2 separate regions of the Homo sapiens genome follow, and region 2 is linked to region 1. Evidence: fine-mapped expression QTL. A gene starts in region 1. The other region holds a variant in brackets. All regions are shown on one strand. Distances are between the middles of the regions.

Region 1 (13,053 bases):
CAGCCAGTCATGGGGACAAAGCCTTCCACAGACAGAGCAAACAATGAGTACAAAGACCCTAAAGTGGTAGAAGGAAGGCCACTATGACTGAAGTTATGAGAAATTATTACGATTTTAGGCAGGGGAGTAATGTAATACGATTTATATTTATAAAAGTTTATTCCAACTTTGTAAGGAAAATGAATGGTAAAGGGGTACAAGAAAGGAGGTAGGTAAGAGAAAAAACAAAAATAATCCCAGTATGGTTTGATAGTGGCTTAGACCAAGATGGCAGTAGTACAAATGAAAAAGAGATATTCCAAAATATGGCACGGTGGCTTACACCTGTAATCCCAGCAGTTTGGGAGGTCAAGTTGGGAGGATAGTTTGATGCCAGTTCAAGACCAGCCTGCATAACATAGTAAGACCCCTATCTCTATAAAAAAATCAAAAAATTAGCCAGGTATGGTGGCATGTGCCTGTAGACCCAGCTACCTGGGAGGCTGTGGCAGGAGGATCGCTTGAGCCAGCAAGATCAAGGCTACAGTAAGGCCATGTTCTCTCCATTGGACTCCAGCCTGGGCGACAGAGTGAGACTTGGTCTCAAAAAAAAAAAAAAGATATTCCAAAAATATTCTTCAAAGTAGAACCTATAAGATATGTTTGTGGATTTGCAGGAGATGTAAAAAAAAAAAAAAAAAAGTGACAAGAATCCAAAATTATTCATATGCTTCTTGCTTGACTGGGTAAATGGTGACGTTCTTTAGTGAGAGCGGAACCAGTTTAGGGAAAAATCAAGAGTTCCGCCCATGTTAAGTTCTATGACGTCAATCAGTATCCAATTGGAGGTATAGTATAGACAACTAATTCTACAAATCTGGAGCTCAGTAGATGTCAGAAACAGAGTTATAAATTTGAGAGTAATCATGCTTTTTGCTACTTAAAACCATGAAAGTACAAGATTTTTCTTACAGAGAAAACATGAATGGAAGAGAGAGCAGAGAACCAAGCCCAGGACATCCCCATTGTACACTAAATTCTGCAGATATACATTTCTACACCTCCACTACTGTATATTCTAGTAGGCTTACCCTTTCATGTTTCTATTTGTTATTTTGAAATATTGGCTGGATTGACAAAAACAGTAAAACTATTTATATAAATTCAATTTAATATTTCAGAGGAAGCAAAAATATGTTTACAACTATAAATACTTACTGTACAGAAAAAAAAAACCCATGAAGTGAAGCAGTTTCTTTAGACTATAGCCTTGAAATGTCCTAAGGTCTGGTTCAAAGAAGTAATCAGTAATGTTGAACGAATGAAATCACAGACTCAGATGCAAATTACAGTTCCACCAGTTACTAGTTATATGACAACCTAGCTGCACTCTCTCCATGCTTTATTTTCCTCATGGTAAAAAGAAGGTTATGTGGCCGGGCGCAGTGGTTCACGCCTTGTAATCCCAGCACTTTGGGAGGCTGAGGCGGGCAGATCACCTGAGGTCAGGAGTTCAAGACCAGCCTGACCAACATGGAGAAACCCCGTCTCTAATAAAAATACAAAATTAGCCAGGCGTGGTGGCACATGCCTGTAATCCCAGCTACTTGGGAGGCTGAGGCAGGAGAATCGCTTGAACCCGGGAGGCAGAGGTTGCAGTGAGCCGAGACTGCGCCCATTGCACTCCAGCTTGGGCAAAAAGAGCAAAACTCTGTCCAAAAAAGAAGGCCATGTTATCTATATCAGAGCAAGTAGCAGTCTTAAATGATATAATAAATATCAATATGAGACACATTAAACACTTCATAAATTTTATGATAAAATTAATATTTGTTAAGAAAGAGTAAGTGCCAGGCTCTTTGCAAAGGACTTTACCTGGAGTCTCTCACTGAGTCCTCAAATAACAACCATGAGAAACTTAACAGCAGGATTCCTAATTCCTAAACAGAAGCTGAGATTAGTGAAGGGACTTACTCAAATCATGATGCACACATTTAGTGGTTCTATCTAATAAGTGGTAGTCTCCAGAGCCCTAATTTCTTATTCATTACATTGCAATGTTATTTTTTTACATATCGGAATCAAATTGTTATCGACAGCTTATTTTCAGTTACCTACATATTCACCTATAAAACTCTCTAACTTTGACATATGTTCTTCTTTATGTTACACTGTCATGACCAATTTACCTAGCGACCCACAGAGACAGAAGAGATGGCTGGGTATGTGAGGAGCTGTAAAGTCCAACTTAAGTTTCAGGAGGTACTTGTGAGAGCATGCTGTCAGTTTATCTTCTAAAGAAATACAGCCTGAGCCCACAAATCATAGCGCTTGGCTCAACAAAAACTAGTAGATATGAGTTCATTTCAGCCACGGGCAAAGGTAGTTCTTTCGCGCTGCAAATTATTGCAATTGTTGTCACTTGTCCGTGGAAATGCACCCTTATCCCTACCACTGCTCTCTTGGTCTCCCGACCCCCATTTGCGCTACCTTATCTTGGAATCTGCTCTTTTGCATCTGTTTCATATCCAGTCTTGTGCTCTCCTCCACTCTCCCAGCTCACACAGCCAAACGCCTCCAGGGGTGTTTGGAGGACACTTCTCGAGGCACCACCGTTCACCAATCCCATCCAGAGAGCCTTGAAGGCACCTTTTCAGGTGGAGAGAACACCCAGGAAACCCCTTCGCTTTTCCGGAGGTTGCTGGGGCTCCCCCTTCTCACCGCCCCCGGCGCCCGCAGAGCAGCGGAGCCCGCAGGTCTGGGGTCACTCGCGGTCCCTCTGCTGCCGGGACGAGGGAGACCGCGGTGGGTCCCTGACAGACGCCGCCCCTGGCCCGGCTCAGCCCCGCAGGAACCTGTGACTCCGGCCCCGCCAGCCCCGGTTACCTTGTCGTTGTCCAGCCGCGTCTCCAGGATCTTATGCAGCTTGCGCGACAGCGGGTTGCAGGTCGTCGCCGAGGTCCCGCCTGCCCCATTGTTGAGGCCGTTGGCAGCCCCGGTCGCAGACACTGCGACCACTTCCCCGCTGCCCTCTGCCATAGCGCTGCGCGTCCCGCCCCCTGCTGCCACCTCAGCCAGGCAGGGACCACGGAGGCAGCGCGAGTATTGCGCATGTGCAAATCGGCCGCGCATGCGCATCGGCCCCGGAAGTCTTCGCCGGGTAACCCTGCTTGGGCTCTCAGAAGCGTGAGGGGCGGAGAAGATGTGGGGGGCGGGACAAGACCCTCAGGTAGAAGGAGAAAATTTATAGGATTAGAGAGGACTTTGGAATTATGGATCTGCGACCTTCAGAGCTAATTAGATGACAACCAAATGTAGTATGTAAAATACACCATGACTTGTGCCTGGCATATACATTCAATATAAGTTAACTGAAAGTTTAAATTACATTTGCCTTATCTGAATTCATTTTTTTGAAAATTATTTATTGAAGGCATAGTATGTGCCAGGTACTCTGGTAGGCATTGGAGAATCTACATTGTGTGTCTGAAACAGACAAAGCTGTTAATAGATGTTATTAGGTTGTGATGAGTGCTCAGGGGATGAAGTAGTACAGTGAAAGAAAATGGAGGGAAAGGCCCACTTCACTCAGGGAGGTTTGGAGAGGAGTTGACACTTAAACTGAGATTTGAAGGAGAATCAGAATGTGAGGAGAAATCATTCCCAGGCAGAAGAAAGTGTGTAAGTGTACAGGCCTCAAAACAAGATGAACTTGGCCCTGACACAAATGGACCAGAGCCCATGTAGCTGTAAAGTAATGGATAAAAATGTAACAAGTTGAAAAAACTTCCCGGGAAACTCTGGAAAACAAACATCATTGCTTTTTTTCTTTCTTTTCTCAGTTTTTAAAATTTGGATCAAAATAAAATCGCTGGGCTTCTGTGAATTATTTGTCAGAAACACTATTTGGCTCTTGTCATAAATTTTCCTTGTTTCATATATGTCTATGTACATAGTTATATTGTATATCAGACTTAAGGGAAAATTACCTATTACAGAGGTCACATAAAGAAAGCACTGACAAAACCACTCATCTCTACTCTAATGAAGAAGAGAAGGCCCAACTATCCAAAAGAAAAAAATATACAAAAAGCAGCAATATCTAGGTATGAATTCAACAAAAAATACAGAGAACCTAGATGAAGAAAACTTTAAAATGCTACTGGGAGAACATAAAACTTAAATCAATGAAAAAATATATTGTTCTCTTCAACAGGAAGACTCAATATTGTAAGATGTCTTTTCTCTTTCACAGATAAATTTAAGTTCAGTGTAACCAAAATTAAAATATCAAAGGTTTACCTAAGGTGTATATATCCAAATGAATTTGCATATATACAAAGCAATAATATAATGTAGAGCTTGCAAATATGTACAATTAAAAGGAATGACGATGATAACATGCCAAGTCAGGAGCGGTCATGAAATACCACATATTGTATGACCTCTTTATGTGAAATCTCCCAAATAGGTAAATCAATAGAGATAGAAAGTAGATGAGTGGTTCTGGGAAGAGGAGTGTTGGGAAGAGGGAATGGGGAGTGTCAGTTCATGGTACAGGTTAATTTTTGGGGAGATGAAAATACTCTAAAGCTAAATTGTGGTGATGGTTGCACAACTCTGTAAATATACTAAAAAACACTGAACTGTACACTTTAAATGAATGAATTGAATGGCATGCAAGTTTCATCTCAAATCTGTTTTTTAGGCCAGGTATGGTGGCTCACACCTGTATTCCCAGCACTTTGGGAGGCTTAGGCAGGGGGATCTCGAGTTCAGGAGTTAAAGACCAGCCTGGGCAACATAGCGAGACCCTGTCTCTACAAAAAAAAAAAAAAAAATACGAAAACTAGTCGAGTGTGGTGGCATGCCTGTGGTCCCAGCTACTTGGAAGGTTGAGGTGGGAGTATCACTTGAGCTCAAGCCTGCGGTAAGTCATAATCATGCCACTGCCCTCTACTCTAGCCTGGGTGATGGAGCAAGGCCCTATCTTAAAATTGAAAAAAAAAAAATAAAGCTGTTTATTTTAAAAAGTAAATTGGAGATAAATAGACAAAATGTTTAAGTAATAAAAAATACAAATTTATATTAATTTTTAAAATCTTTATTTAGATATAATTTACAGGCCATAAACTTCACCTATTAAAAGTATAAAATATGACAGCTTTTAGTTCATTTACAGAGTTGGCAAATATCACCATCATCTAATTTTAAGACATTTTCATTACTTTAAGAAGAAAACTGTACCCACTAGCACTCCCCATTTTCCCCTCTCTACCACCCTAGGAAACCACAAATCTGCTCTCTGTCTCTATAGATATGCCAGTTTGGACATTTCATATAAACAGAATTATACAATATGTAACATTTCATGCCTGACTTCTTTCACTTAGCATAATTTTTCAAGGTTCATCTATTTTGTAGCTTGTATCAGTGTTTCATTCCCTATTATTGCCAAATAATAATCCATTGTATGGATCTCCCATATTTTATTCATTCGTCAGATGGCTATTTAGGTAGTTTCAAATTTTTGGCTTTTATGAAAAATGTCTCTGTGAATTTTCATGTGAGAGTTTTTGTGTGGATGTATGTTTTCACTTTCCTTAGGAAGATACCTAGGAGTAGATTGTTCTTATGGTTAACTCTATGTTTAATGTTTTGAGAAACTGTCAAATAGTTTTCCGAAGTGACTGCCCCATTTTTCATTCCCACCAGCACTGTATGAGGGGCTCCAGTATTCTTCACATCCTGACTAACACTCATTATGGTCTGTCTTTTTTATCTTATCCATCCTACTCAGTGTGATATGATACCTCATTGAGATTTGGCTTTCCATTTCCTAGTGACTAGTGATATTGAGTTGTAAGAATTCTTTATATATTCTGGATACTAGTCCTAACAATTTATTGGAAAATATTTTTTCCTACTTTTGCTTGTCTTTTCACTTTCTCAATGGCATCCTTTGAAGCACAATTAATCTTAATTTGATGAGATACAACTTATCAATTTCCTTTTTTATTATTTGTGCTTTTGGTGCCTTATTCAAGAAATTATTACCCAACCTAGATCACAAAAATTTATTCCTGTGTTTTCTTCTATTACATTGGCACAAAAGTAATTGCAGGTTTTGCCATTGAAAGTAATGGCAAAAATCGCAATTACTTTTGCACAGGCCTAATAAAATTTTATAGTTTCAGCACTTATATTAAAGCCTATCTTGTACCTTGAGCTAATTTTTGTGTATGGATGTTAGGTAGGGATCCAGTTTTATTGTCTTAAATGTGGATATTCAGTTGTCTCCCACACCATTTGCTAAAAGGACTATTCTTTCTCCCATGTGAGCTTTTCTATAGATTGAGAAAAAGCCGATGATAAAATCCAATATCCATTCATGATTAAAGAAACAAGTAAACTCTTAGCAATTTGAATAAAAGGGGATTTCCTTAATTGGATTGAGAGTATATACAAAAAAAAACCCTATGACAAACATCACACCTAAGGAAATATTTAAAACTTTCTCCTTGACATCAAGAATAAGACAAAAACTATCCACTAACACTGCTATTCAATATTTCACTAGAAGCTCAAACCAGAATAATAAACTAAGAAAAAAGTCATAAAGATTAGAGAGAATTTTTAAAATTTACACTTTTTGATAGGTGATGCAATGTGTCCCTAGATAATCCAGAAGGATCTATAGAAAAAGTGTTAGAATTAAAATAATAACCTATTTCACATATTGTTTTCCAAAACTCCAAAAAGGACAGGATCTTGGAATTCAACTAGCTTGCAAAAGAAGTTGTGTGACTCTTTAGCACCTCATTGCAAAAATGTGTTTTTATGTTGGTCAGGACTTACTTCATCAATTACCGCTGCCTGTAAAGGTGATTAAAAATCCAAAATTAAAAAAGATATGGAGCCGGGTGTGGTGGCTCATGCCTGTAATCCCAGCTACTCAGGAGGCTGAGGCAGGAGAATCGCTTGAACCTGGGAGGCAGAGGTTGCAGTGAGCCAAGATTGCACCACTGCACTCCAGCCTGGATGGTAGAGCAAGACCCCTTCTTTAAAAAAAAAAAAAAAAAAAAAAAGAAGAAGAAAAGAAAAAGATACAGAGGCTGGGCACAGTGGTTTATACCTGTAATCCCAGCACTTTGGGAGATAGAGGCAGGAGGATCACTTGAGCCCAGGAATACGAGACTAGCCTGGGCAACATCAAGAGACCCCACTTCTATAGAAAATTTTAAAAATTAGCCAGTTGTGGTGGTGCATGTTTGTATCCCAGCTACTTGGGAGGCTGAAGTGGGAGGATCACTTGATCTCAGAAGGTTGAGGCTGCAGTGAGCCGTGATTGCACCACTGCACTCCAGCCTGGGTAACAGAGTGAGAATCTGTCACCAAAAAAAAAGAAAAAAGAAAGAGAGGGAGGGCTGGAGGCGGGTGTGGAGAAAAGAAAAGAAAGCAGGAGAGAAAAGAAGAAGGAAAGAAAAGGAGAAGGAAAGAAAGAAAATATTTGGGCTGGGCATGGTGGCTCACACCTCTAATCCTAGTACTTTTGGAGGCTGAGGCAGGCAGATAACTTGAGCCCAGGAGTTTGAGACCAGCCTAGGCAAGAGGGAGAAACCCTGTCACTTCAAAAATACAAAAATTTCGCCAAGCGTGGTATCGCACACACCTGTAGTCTCAGCTACTCAGGAGGTTGAGGTGGGAGGATTGCTTGAGCCTGGGAGGCGGAGGTTGCAGTGAGCCGAGATCATGCCACTGCACACCAGCCTGGTCGACAGAGTGAGACCTTATGTTTTAAAAAAAAAAAATTGATTCCAATGTTATTTAAGTTATTCTAGGATTCAGGATTTCTTAACTTTGGCACCATTGACATTTGGGGCTGCATATTTTGTTGTTGTTGGGAACTATTCTGTTCACTGTAGGATGTTTAGCAGCATTACTGGCCTCTACCTACTAAATGCCAGTAGCATCCTCCCCAGTTGGAACGATCAAAATGTCTCCAGACATTGCCAATGTCCCTGAGGGGCAAAATTGTCCGGGGTTGACAACCACTGTTCCAAGCCGTAAGTATTTTAGTTATCTGATATTGCTTAACATATTTCCCCAAAACTAGTATATTAAAAAAAATCATAACTTCTGTCAGTCAGGAAATCAAGAGTGACTTGGCTAGGCGGTTTAGGCTCAGGGTCTCTCATGAAGCTGCAATCAGATATTACCTAGGACTGCAGTCATCTGAAAGCTTAATTGGTGCTGGAGGATTCACTTCGAGGTGGCTCACTCACATGGCTGGCATATGCTACTTACTAAAATGAGGCTCAATTTCTCACCAAATGGTCCCTCCCACAGGGCTATCTGAGTGTCCTCATAACATGGCACTCTTCCTGTTAGGCATTTACTATGGATATAATGCAAAAACTTCCCACAGTATATGAACAAAGATATTTATCTACCATGGTTTGTAATAGAGAGAAAAATAGAGATAGAGAGAGAAAGAAAGAGAAAGGAAGGAAGGAAGGGAGAAAAGCAGAAAGAGAGAGAGAGAGAAAGAAAGGATGGAAGGAAGGAGAGACTAAGGGAGGGAGGAGGAAAGAGAGACAACCAGAGTGTCTATCAATACAGGACTGAACAAATAAACTATCATGCACTCATTCATTCAGCAGAATACTATGCAAGTGTTATCTGCTATGAAGGAGATTTAAATGCTAACATGGAAATAATTCCACAATATACTCTGTGAAAAAGCAAGCTATATTATGTATGTATGATGAGATCACTTACGTGCACGAAATGGAGAGATACATATAAATTTAGATTTTTTTTCAGGATGGCATTCCAGTGGAAGGAAGGCTTCCATTTTCCATTTTGTACCTTTCTAAACTGATTGAAATTGTCTAGTCTTATTCATGTATTACTAAATATATTAACAGAGGTTATTAAGGTAGAGTAACCATGACCCACTTTTCTTGTTTATTTCTAATTCTCTGAATTAACAATTGTAAAAAAGTAAATGAGATAATTCATGAATTAAAATAATATGTGGTAGCATGAAAACAGGGAAATTATTTTATGTTTTAAATGCTTACTTAAGTATGTTTTTATGAGGTTAATTATAAATTGTTAAGAGCTTAAAATCAATATTTGTCAAGAGTTAAAATAAATTTTCAGGTGTGCCTCATCAGATACGTGTGTGTGTATGTATCCATATATTTTTGAAAGTAACGTTTTTTAGTGAAAATGTGAAAGATAATTGTTTATAGTAAGCTCCATAAAGTAGTAGAACATTAAAATAATTAAAAGATATGCTTTGACCTAAACATTTCAATTTAATAGGAGAACAAATACACGCATGTAAAAGAGCAAAGGATTTAAAAGAAAATGACAGAAGAACCATGCAGTAGACTGAAATGTGGAGATTCTTACCTTCTAAGAAATGATTGAGGCCAGATGTGGTGGCTCACCCTTGTAACTCCAGCACTTTGGGAGGCCAAGGTGGGCAGATCACCTGAGGTCAAGAGTTCGAGGCCAACATGGTAAAACCCTGTCTCTACTAAAAATACAAAAATTAGCCAGACATGGTGGTGCGCACCTGTAATCTCAGTCACCAGGGAGGCTGAGGCAGGAGAATTGCTTGAACCTGGGAGGCGGAGGTTGCAGTGAGCCGAGATTACACCACTGCACTCCAGCCTGGGCGACAGAGCAAGACTCCATCTAAAAACAAACAAACAAAAAAAAAAAAACAAAGAAAAGAAAGAAAAAAAAGAAAAGGTTGAAAGGAGGGCCTCTCCAAGTTCCTATTCCTCTCCTTTAGATCAAGCTCGTCCAACCTGAGGCCCACAGACTGCATGGATATGGCCCAGGACAACTTTGAATTCTGCCCAACACAAATTTGTAAACTCACTGAAAACATTATGGATTTTTTGCAATTTTTTTAGAGCTTCAGCTATCATTAGTGTTAGTGTATTTTATGTGTGGTCCAGGGAAGCCAAAAGATTGGACACCATTGCTTTAGATGGTTAAGCTTTCTTGCCCTTTGGCTTCTGAAATAAGAGGAAGTCACTTTGTATTGGTTACTGTGGCTTCATCAAAATATAATATGGCATTTATTACGGCTATGTCTAGTGAGTCATAGAATTTTCAGCCTTCGACATCTTTCATTGTGTTGATAATAGTAGCTCCCGTTATTTAGCAACTATGTTTATTGAAAATCAGGCTCTGTGCTAGAATTTATTATACACTATTTTTATCTTCACAGCTACCCTGAAACATAAGGATCATTACATTATCATGTAATTAGTACTCCTCTTGATGAGTAATCCAAGACTAAAGAAACCTTTCCAAGGATATATGGCTAACTCAGATAACACAGCCAGCTACCACCTAAGTTGGCGTTTAGCTAAAGGGTTCAGCCAGGCGTGGTGGCTAATGCTTATTATTCCAACATCTTGGGAGGCCGAGGTGGGCAGATCGCTTGAGGTCAGGAGTTCGAGACCAGCCTGGCCAACTTAGCGAAACCCTGTCTCTACTAAAAATACAAAAATTAGCTAGGCATGGTGGTGTGCACCTGTATTCCCAGCTACTCCAGAGGCTAAGGCAGGACATTCTCTTGAACCGGAGAGGCAGAGGTCGCAGAGAGCCAATATCATGCCACTGCACTCCAGCCTGAGCAACAGAGCGAGACTCTCTTTTTAAAAAATAATAATAATAAATGAAAAATAAATAAAGGGTTGCATTACTGCTTTCTCGGTTTTGAGCTGTGTACACCTCTCCCTTGGAATGTAAGCAAAAATTTTTGCAGCTAAACGTTCAAATGTGTTTTATGTTGGTGTTGCCTTGACCAGGTTCTTACTGCCTTCACAGTGACACCAGCATTATTTTTCTAAAACACAGATTTGATCCTGTCATTTTTTTGCTTTAAAAATCGTGATGGTTTGTGAAACAGGTATCTAGTGGGGATCTTTAAAAAAAACAAAAATAAAGAAAAAAGAAAAGTAAAAAAGTAATAAAATGAAATAAAATAAAAACTGTGATGGTAGTTATCAAATAAATGAATGTTTTATTATGGTATACACAGGCATTCATAATCAGATCTCATCATCAGATTTCATGTTATCACTCTGGCCTTATTTCTAGGCACTTGCTTCATGATTGCAACATTCTGGCCATACTCTACTTGCTAGGCTACAAGTGCATCACAAACTTTCATCTCCTTTTGTTGGCTCCTACAACCCACTTGTGTTAGTCCATTTGGGCTACTATAACAAAATACGTAAACTGGAGAGCTTTTAAACAACAGAAATTTATTTTTCACAGTTGTGGAGGCTGGGAAGTCCAAGATCCAGGCACTGGCATATTCGGAGTCAAGTGAGGGCCCGCTTCCTTGTTCATAAATGGCTCCTTCTCACTGTAATTTCACAGGTAGGAGGAAGTGGCTAGTGAGTTCTTTGAGGCCTCTTTTGCAAGGACACGAATTCCTATCATGAGAGCTCCACCCTCATGGCCTAATCACCTCCCAAAGGCCAAGCCTCCTAATTCTAACTTGGGAATTAGAATTTCAACTTATGAGTTTTGCAGGGACACAAACATTCAGATTTTGGCACCACTCTTTCAGGAAAGCCTTCTCTTATAAAACTAGTGATATCCAATTTGTCCTTCAGGCCCCACTCAAACAATTCTTTGTACCTTCATGAAGCACCCTACCTCTCCTTGAGCAGAATTAATTGGTCCCTCATGCAAATTCCACATCATATCATTATTTTTAAAATTTCTTTTTATATTTGTTGTTCCCCCACTAGACTCGAAGTACCTGTATGATAAGGACTATGTCACTCATCTTTGTCTACCCAGTTTCCAGCACAGCATCAGGCACAATATATGTGCCTTAGTAGGCTAAAGGCTTACTCAATGAAAAGGATTGAAATGAAGTTTTATGGCTTTGTAAGTTAGGGTTCTTAATTGCAATTGTTAGGAGCAGACTGAAGACGATTTAAATAGAAATGTATTTATTGAAAGAATAGTGGGTAGGTCTTAGAATCAACAAGAAGGAGGAAGAACCAAGCTTGTAGGAGAGGCAAAAACATAAGGAAACTAGGCACACATAACCATCATCAAAATCACTGCACAAAACAACTCATCATGGACCCATTGTGAGATGGACAGATTGCTCCACCCACACTGCAATGTCTGCAAAATGCTATAACAATGCCTGGGTTATGAAATAAGATGTATAGAAGCTGAATTATCTAATTTGGAAAATAACACACAACTGCCACATATATCTGAGCTATGTCACACCACCATCAGTGAAACTATACAATCAACCTTTTCAGTCCAAGTCCCATACAACAATTCCTCGTTCTCCGACAAAGTACATATATTTACACACATTTCCTATTCTCTTTCAGTCTCAACGTTCATCTGGCACACACATGTCCATGCATATACATAAATACATCGTCTAGTATTAAGGTATAAATATTCATGTACTTTCTAAAGCTCTGGTTGTGTCCTCTTTCTTTATATATTCATTCATTCTCTAAAAGCAAAATTCTAATTGTGTTCACTTGTCTGTTCTTGTAGTCCCAACCTGTAGGGTTGCCTTATTTATTCAGTACATACCACATTTAACCCCTCAATAGCAGGGTCTCCAATTTAAATATCACAGTTAGTAATTTCATTATTCAACCTCTATGCTGGCAGCTTTAACACACAAACTATCTATTTTTCCTTCTTTCTAGTTGGCCTCCCAGTCATTATTCTGCATAGGCCTGGCAGCCTTCTGCTTTTAATTGATTGCTATTGATTTTATTTTCAGAATATACGAACCCAGGGCCTCTTAGTGGAATTAAGCACCCACCTGTCACAGAGAATCTGATTTCTGTTGAACTCTTTCTGCTTACGTTTCCCATGTACACTATGCTGTGCCTTGCCTATCCTACGCCTCTGCCTGGAATGCCCTTCCTTTCTTCTTCCCTTGATTAGACTTATTCATTTAGGTTGCTCAGGAGCCTCATCTCCTAAGTGCCTTCCTAGTTAGGCCAGGTGTCCCTTCCATGTGCTTTCAAATAATCCTAA
Region 2 (8,000 bases), 54 kb before region 1:
AGCATCAAAAAAACCACTCAATATCTGGGAATAAATCTAACCAAAGATGTGCAAGGCCTGAACACTATGAAAGGTTAGTGAGAGAAACTAAAGACCTAAGTAAATGGAGAGATATATGATATTCATAAATTGGAAATCTTGGTATCATTAAGATATTAATTTCTCCTCAACTGATCTATAGATTTAATCAAAGCCTCAGAAAGCTTTTTTATTTTAAAAATGCACAAGTTGATTCTAAATAAAATGAAATCAATGGAATAAATAAATAATCTAAAATAAATCAATGGAATACACAATTACCAAACAAATCCACATACATGGTCATGTAATTTATGACCATTTCCACTTCACTGCAGTGGGAATGGATGGCCTTTACAATAAATGGTGCTGGATCAAGTGTATATCCACATGAAAATATGCACAATAGCGAAGATACGGAATCAACCTAAGTGCCCATCAACAGATGACTGGATAAAGAAAATGTGGTGTGTGTGTACATATAACACATATATATTTGTGGACACACACATATATGTGTTACATATCACATATACACACACACCACACATATACACACACACATATATATACACATACACTCACACCATGGAATACTATTCAGCCATGAAAAAGAATGAAATCATTTCTTTTGCAACAACATGAGTGGAACTTCAGGCCATAATCTTAGGTGAAATAAACAAAGTCAAATATTGCATGTTCTTATAAGTGGGAGCTAAATAATGTGTACACATGGACACAGAGTAGAATAATAGACAATGGAGACTCAGACAGGTTGGGAGGGTGGGAGGGGAATGGGGGATGAGAAATTACCTACTGGGTGCAATATACAGTACTCAGGTGATGATTACACTAAAAGCCCAGACTTCACCATTACATAATATATAAATGTAACATGACTGCATTAGTATCTCATAAATTTATAAAAATTAAAAATAAATAAAAGGAAAATGTTAAAAGGAACTATTATGTATGGAACATCCACCAGGAAGTAGGCACAGGCTTAGCAATTAGGCAGACCTGGATATATATTCACCCTTAGTGACTATGTGACCTAGGGCAGGTTAATCTACGTTGACTGTGCCGTAATTCTTTGTTTTACATTTAGTAAAAACTCAATTACATAGTGACAACTTACTGAAAGTCATAATGATTGGAAAAGTTAGAATTTGAGTACAGCTCTATCAGACTCCAAAGCCCAGGATTTCTCCTTGAGCCATATATTGCCTTTCTAATGCGGAGCCCCATCAATTGCTCACCCGAGATAAGTATCCCCAACAAACTCAGACTGAATCTTTAATTTAAGAAAGGCTATACCTGCATCGCAGCACAAAAACCACCTGCAACTACACTACTGGTACTAAGACAACCAATTATTAAATATCAACTTAACTGGAAAAAAACATAAAAGTCTCAGGTAACCTAAGAAATACATATGTAGCTAAGGACAAAGATGACTGAGAAGATTAGCTTCTAAGGCTCTTCTAGTTTTTCAATCTATCAAACATCTGTTGAAGACCTACTATGAGAACATGGTATTAGGTATTGTTATATTTTACCAGACATTACGACACGGATCAAGGCCAAAGGCAAGAAAAATTGAAAGCAAGGAAAATAAAGTAATTTAAACAACACACACACACACAAATTAAACTTGACCCCTACCTTCATACCATACTCAAAAATTTGAGATGGATTGAAGGCCTAAATGTGGAAGCTAAAATAATCAAGCTTCTTAGAGAAAAATACAGAAGAATGTCCTCATGACCTTGAGATAGCCAAAGATTTCTTAAACAGGACACAAAAGGAACTAATCATGAAATAAAAGCTTGTTATACAAGACTGAATTAAAAATTGAGAATTTCTGTTAATCTAATACATGACTAAGAGAGTGAAAAGACAGTTCAAAAAGTGATAGAAAATATCTGTGATGCTTATTATTCCATAAAGGACTTGTATCCAAACACATGTTTGAAAACTCTTATAAGTCAATAAGAAAAAGGTAACAACCCAGTAAGGACTCTCTGCAACAGTCTTTAAAAGACAACTTCAAAAGAAAGTACATCCAGCAGCCAATAAACATGAAAAATTGTTCATCACCATTAATCTTGAGAAAAATGCAAACTACAAGCAAATGAAATACCACCACACACTTTCTACAATGCCTAAAATTAAAAAGACTAACAACATCACGTACTGGAGAGAATGTGGAACAACTGAAACTCCCACATTTCTGGTGAAGTGATCTAGGACAATTACTTTGGAAAAATACTTAGCAATATCTAGTAAAGCTAATCAATCTTATAATCCAGATATTCCATTTCTGGGCATACATACAAGAGAAATAAAAACTTATGTCCACCAACACATGTATAAGACTATTAATAATAGCTTTATTTACAATATCCAAGAACTAGAAACATCCCAAATGTCCATCAGTAACAGAATGAGTAAATTGTGGTGAATATATATAATGAAATTACTACACAACAATTAAAAAATGAACTACTGAACATGCAAAATATATGAATCTTACAGATATGTTAAGTCAGGGCCAAAAAAGTATACACTGTATGAATCTATTTACATGAAGTTAATAGCAGGCAAAACAAGAGACAGTAGTCAGACAGCAGTTTACACCGGGGTTAGATATTGACTGGGAAGGGGAAAGAGGATGCCTTCTGAAGGGCTAGAAATGTTTTATATCTTATCTGGGTGATAGCTAATGAGCATATGCAAATACAAACATTCAACTAACTGTATACTTTAGACTTGGGTACTATATCTGCAGTTAAAAATAAAGCTTGGCTGGGTGCAGTGGCTCATGCCTGTAATCCCAGCACTTTGGAAGGCTGAGGCGGGCGGATCATGAGGTCAAGAGATAGAGACCATCCTGGCCAACATGGTGAAACCCCGTCTCTACTAAAAATACAAAAATTAGCTGGGTGTGGTGGTGCATGCCTGTAGTCCCAGCTACTCAGGAGGCTGAGGCAGGAGAATCACTTGAACCCGGGAGGCAGAAGCTGCAGTGAGCAGAGAGATTGTGCATTACACTCCAGCCTGGTGACAGAGCGAGACTCTGTCTCAAAAAAAAAAAAAAGTGAGCTCATTTGTTCTTCTTCTTCTTTATATTATTGTACATACTAAACATCAAGTCATTATTATTAAATACTTATTTCAAAATTTGAATATTTTCTAAGTGACAAAGTTGAAGTATACAGAAAAATTTCACATTTAAAAGCATTTAAAGGCCAGGCATGGTGGCTCATGCCTGTAATATCAGCACTTTGGGAGGCTGAGGTGGGTGGATTGCTTGAGACCAGGAAATCAAGGCCAGTCTGGCCAACATGGTGAAACCCTGTCTCTACTAAAAATACAAAAATTAGTTGGAGATGGTGGCGGATGCCTGTAACCCCAGCTACTCGGGAGGCTGAGGCAGGAGAATCGCTTGAACCCAGGAGGAGGAGGTTGCAGTGAGCCGAGATCACACCACTGAACTCCAGCCTGGACGACAGAGACAGACTCTGACCCAATCAATTAATCAATCAATAATTTTTTT[A/T]AAAAAAGCATTTAAGCTATTGAAAACTTCATATTCCATATATTAGAACCTCTCTTTTTTTAAATGTGTAGAGCTATACACAAAAGTCCTCATTGTTCTTGTGACTATTTACTTTTTATCCCTTCTGTAGTTTAGGTGCTCTGACTTTTACTAGAGAAAAATAAAAAGGTTGCACCATAAAAATTCCAAAAGCTGTTCCTACAACTTCATCCCACTACCAACTTTAGTTTTATTCTTTCAGCTATCTTCCATTTAAGGTCCTATAATTTTCTGTTGTGTAGCTTCTTAGAAGGCCCTTCGCCCATTTGCTTTCAAAAAATAAAGACTAGCCAACCAAACACAAAGTTCTCATATTTTTAAACTAATTTCCTCATTCTCTCTCTATATATATTTAAATATATATATATATATATATATAAAGGAGTATATATATATATAAAGGAGTATATATATATATAAAGGAGTATATATATAAAAGAAGTGTGTGTGTATATACATATATATAAATATATACATTCCTTTTGCTCTAAATACATACATTCTAGTAATTGACAATATGTGGAATTTAAGTTTTTAAGTCAATAAAATTGTCCAAGATAAATTTAGGACTGCAAACTAACATGTTTGAAATAATTTCAAATTACAACTTATTTTACACACTTTTATTTTTTTAAATATTAAAGCATTTCAGATAAAAAAAATTTGGTTTTCTGTTTGTTTTTCCTGGCAGAATCATCTGTAAGGAATAATGTAAAACTCAAACTATTCAACCAGAACAGCACCTCTCAAACTATAATGAGCACATGAACCTCCTGGGAATCTTATTAAAATGCATAATTCAATTCAGTAGGTCTGGAGCAGGACCTGAGATATCTGCATGTCTAGTAAGTTCCCATATGATGCCCAAGCTGCTAATCCACATACTATGCTATGAGTAGTAAAAAGAGATTCAAAGCAGTAACCATATCCTAGAATTTAAATGACAATTTATTTAAAGAATCATTTGGGGTTTGTTTTTTTTTCTCCAGAGGACTGGGCAAATCAATCCTGACTACTATTAACTTGATATGGGTTTCATTTAAGACAGGCTATATCCTTGCAATTAGAACTGCACTATTACTATAGTGAGAAATAATTTTAGAAAATGTCAGTCTAGCCTAAATTGACACAACATTGTGTCTTTTGCAGTATAGATGCATATTCTCTTTAAACTTCACTAGATTTGCAGTTATGAATATTTCAGGAGAGCTTGATAAGGAAGGGAGTATGCCTACTTGAATACTCAAGTGCTTCAAACTGCTTTGTTAGGGAAAAGGTACATCTTTCAATAAAATTATGTCCTTGAATTTCCTTTTTCTCACGCTAGATAAAGAATTAGCTCCCAAGTATGTCTTTTTAAAAGCACAAAAGCAATCATATTTTTAAAAATTCCTCTCTGGCTATACCTTTATTTTAAAAGCTATTCTTTCCAACAATTATACTATTCACTTAAAATTCTATTAACAAAAATTTCCACTTGGGTGCTTTGCTAATGAAGAACATGCTACAATAAATATTGTTTTCTTCATAAAGCTACAGTGTTTTTAGAGGAAGTGAAATCATTTACAAGAAGCAGAATAAGTAAAAGATATAACTAATATAAAATTATGGAACATTAAAATTTGATGAAAGGAAGATATTCTTGCAAAAAACCTGAAATGGTTGTAGATACAAGCAACATATGAGTTGTAAAGAGAATCATAACACGGTCGCAATCTAATGTAAAAATAACTCTAAATATGGCCCAGTTCATATCTGAGAAAAACATCCAGGGTTCAATTAGTAATAATGACAACAAAAACAACAACAATAATGATCAGAGCCCATTCACTGCTATAAACTCATATAAGCTGCAATATTGATTGGTAATTAATAAATTCAGATTACAATTACTTTCTTTCCTCATTTTCATCCTATTCTGTTCAAAGTTTTAATTGGAAGATGTCATCCTTCAGTTGCCTTTTACTATCCATTACAGATGACCCTTAAACAACACATGTTTAAACCACAAAGGTCCACATTTACATAGATTGTCTTCTCCCTCTGCTACTCTCTGAGACAGCAAGACCAGTCTCTCTTCTTCCTCCTCCTCAGCCTACTCAATGTGAAGACAATGAGGATAAAGACCTTTATGATGATTCACTTCCATTTAATGAATAGTAGATATATTTTCTCTCCCTTATGATTTTCTTAATAACATTTTCCTTTCACTAGCTTACTTTATTGTAAGAATACAGTGTATAATACATACAACAAAAAATGAGTTGACTGCTTATGTTATTAGCAAGGCATCCAGTCAATAGCTAATTAGCAGTTAGATTTTGAGAGTCGAAAGTCACACGCAGATTTTTTCAACTTCACAGGGGTCAGCATCATAACTCCCATGTTGTTCAGGAGTCAACTGTATGTTTTCCTGTTTTGTTGCAACTTTCATTTTAACTTTTACATGACTAATAAAATATATAGAAACTTACTATTAGGGGAATAAAATAAAATAAATGGATAACCACTTGGGAAAGAATAAGATACTAAGTTTTCAGTCTGAACAATAATAAACTTCAGTAGATTAAAAATTTGTTGCAAAAGTGAAACCAGGGCTAGGGCCAGGTGTGATGGCTCACACCTGTAATTCCTGCACTTTGGGAGGCTGAGGCAGGAGGATCACCTGAGGCCAGTAGTTTGAGACAAGCCTGGGCAACATAGTGAGACCATGTCTCTACAGAAAAAAAAAAAAATTTAAATTAGCTGGGCATGGTGGCATGCACCTATAGTCCCAGCTACTTGGAAGGCTGAGGCAGAAGGATGGCTTGAGCTTCAAGGCTGCAGTGAGCTACGATCCTGGGCAACAACAGTAAGACCCTGTTGCTTAAAAAAATAAATAAAGTGAAAACATAGAAACACCTAAGAAAATACATCTAAATAAATGTATTAAACAATCTATCATTTCCCCACTAATAGATGCTATCTTTATTATATATTAAATTCTAAATGTTTTTTCTTGTGGGAATACTTTCAAGCATGGAATGCTCCCAAGGGAAAAAAACTATAAAAAAAGTTCTATTGAACTATAAAAAAATTAAAAGTTGATGTGTCAGAAAATACTACAGGCAAATTTTAAAGGCAAATGATAACGTGGAGAAAATGTCTGTAATATATATGATGGAGTTAATATTCTTAATGCATAAAGAATATCAGAAATGAACAAGACAACCCAATAGGAAAATGGCAAAGGACTTGAACAAGCAATTCACAAACAGCCAAAAACATATCTTAAAATGTTCATTCTCACTAGAATCACAGAAATCCAAATGAGAAAAACAACAAAATGTCGCTTTTGCTCGTCATGTTGGTAAAGATTTTTTTTTAATGTCCATTATCCAGTTTTAGCAAGAGTTGGCACTTTTTCAGTAGGAGGTAGTATGGTAGATTTGAGGAAATGGGTGAAAATAAGTGAGGTAAATGTGAGTGGCTGCCAAAGGACAATCAGTATTTGCTGGACCTCCTGGGGGGCTTTCCTGATGTTGGAGACAATTTTTAGTGATTCCTGTCTGTATGATGTAATTTTCTTTAGCAGAGCTCAGGAAAAATTGAAAAATTGAATTAACTCAAGGTGGTTTTGCAAAGTGAATGTGGTAAAATGGCAAGGGTGCAAGAGATTTAAAGCTAATGGCAAGATAGTGATGGAATATAGGCCAGCAGAAAATGAACTGAACCATTCATGTTACCAGTATTTATTGAGCACCTCATGAGCTGGTATATAAGAAAATTAATTACATTTGTATATTGATCTTTTCACCAACGACTTCACTAGAATTCATTTTCTGGTTGTATAGCTTTTTAGTTGATTCTCCTAGGTCTTCAAAATAGACTATCATAACATCCATAAATAATCTAATGTCTCCTCCTTTAAAATATTTACAATTCATTTCTTTATCTCATCTTTCTACCGTGGTTATTATTTAAAAGTATTGGCAAGCATTCTTGTTCTTCACTTAAATAGAAGAACCACTAGTGTGTCAATATTAATTATGATGTTGGCTGTTAGTTTTATCTCTCTTTATATGGTTAAGGAAGTATTCATCAATGACTTGTTTTAATATTAAGATTTTCCCCAATGTGATCAAATATGAGAATATAAAATTTATTTTATATACTCATTTAGTATATTTCCTAACACTGAAACATTCTTATATTCATGTAATAAACCATTCTTGGTTTTAATATATAAATGCTGAATTTTGAAGTTTTAAAACTTAAAAAGTGACTAATCTATGGTTTCCACTACTGACTATCTTTAAAAGGTTTTATGTCGGTGTTATACTACCTAAAACAAACTGGGAAGCTTTCCATATTTTTTCATGTTCTGGAGAATTATCTGTTCCTC

Direction of the effects. Alleles are on the strand shown, and positions count from the first base shown. SD is a standard deviation of normalised expression in the study named.
For the expression in prefrontal cortex of the gene that starts at base 3,083 in region 1, allele T in region 2 goes with a lower level than allele A (small effect, 0.29 SD a copy in CommonMind).

The links.
Region 2: its variant is fine-mapped to the expression of COG6 in prefrontal cortex (CommonMind, PIP 0.95).

Annotation. Positions count from the first base shown.
Region 1 is chr13:39,645,692-39,658,744 of GRCh38, reverse strand. It overlaps COG6 (component of oligomeric golgi complex 6), which reads right to left and starts at 3,083. Exons shown (of 19, transcript NM_020751.3): 1 at 2,866-3,083. The coding sequence starts at 3,018. RefSeq lists a silencer at 2,770-2,819.
Region 2 is chr13:39,702,251-39,710,250 of GRCh38, reverse strand. The region is part of intron 13 of COG6 (component of oligomeric golgi complex 6); the gene reads right to left. Among named protein-coding and RNA genes, the nearest start is that of MIR4305, 42 kb to the right of the region's middle. The variant A/T (reference allele first, on the strand shown) is at 3,578.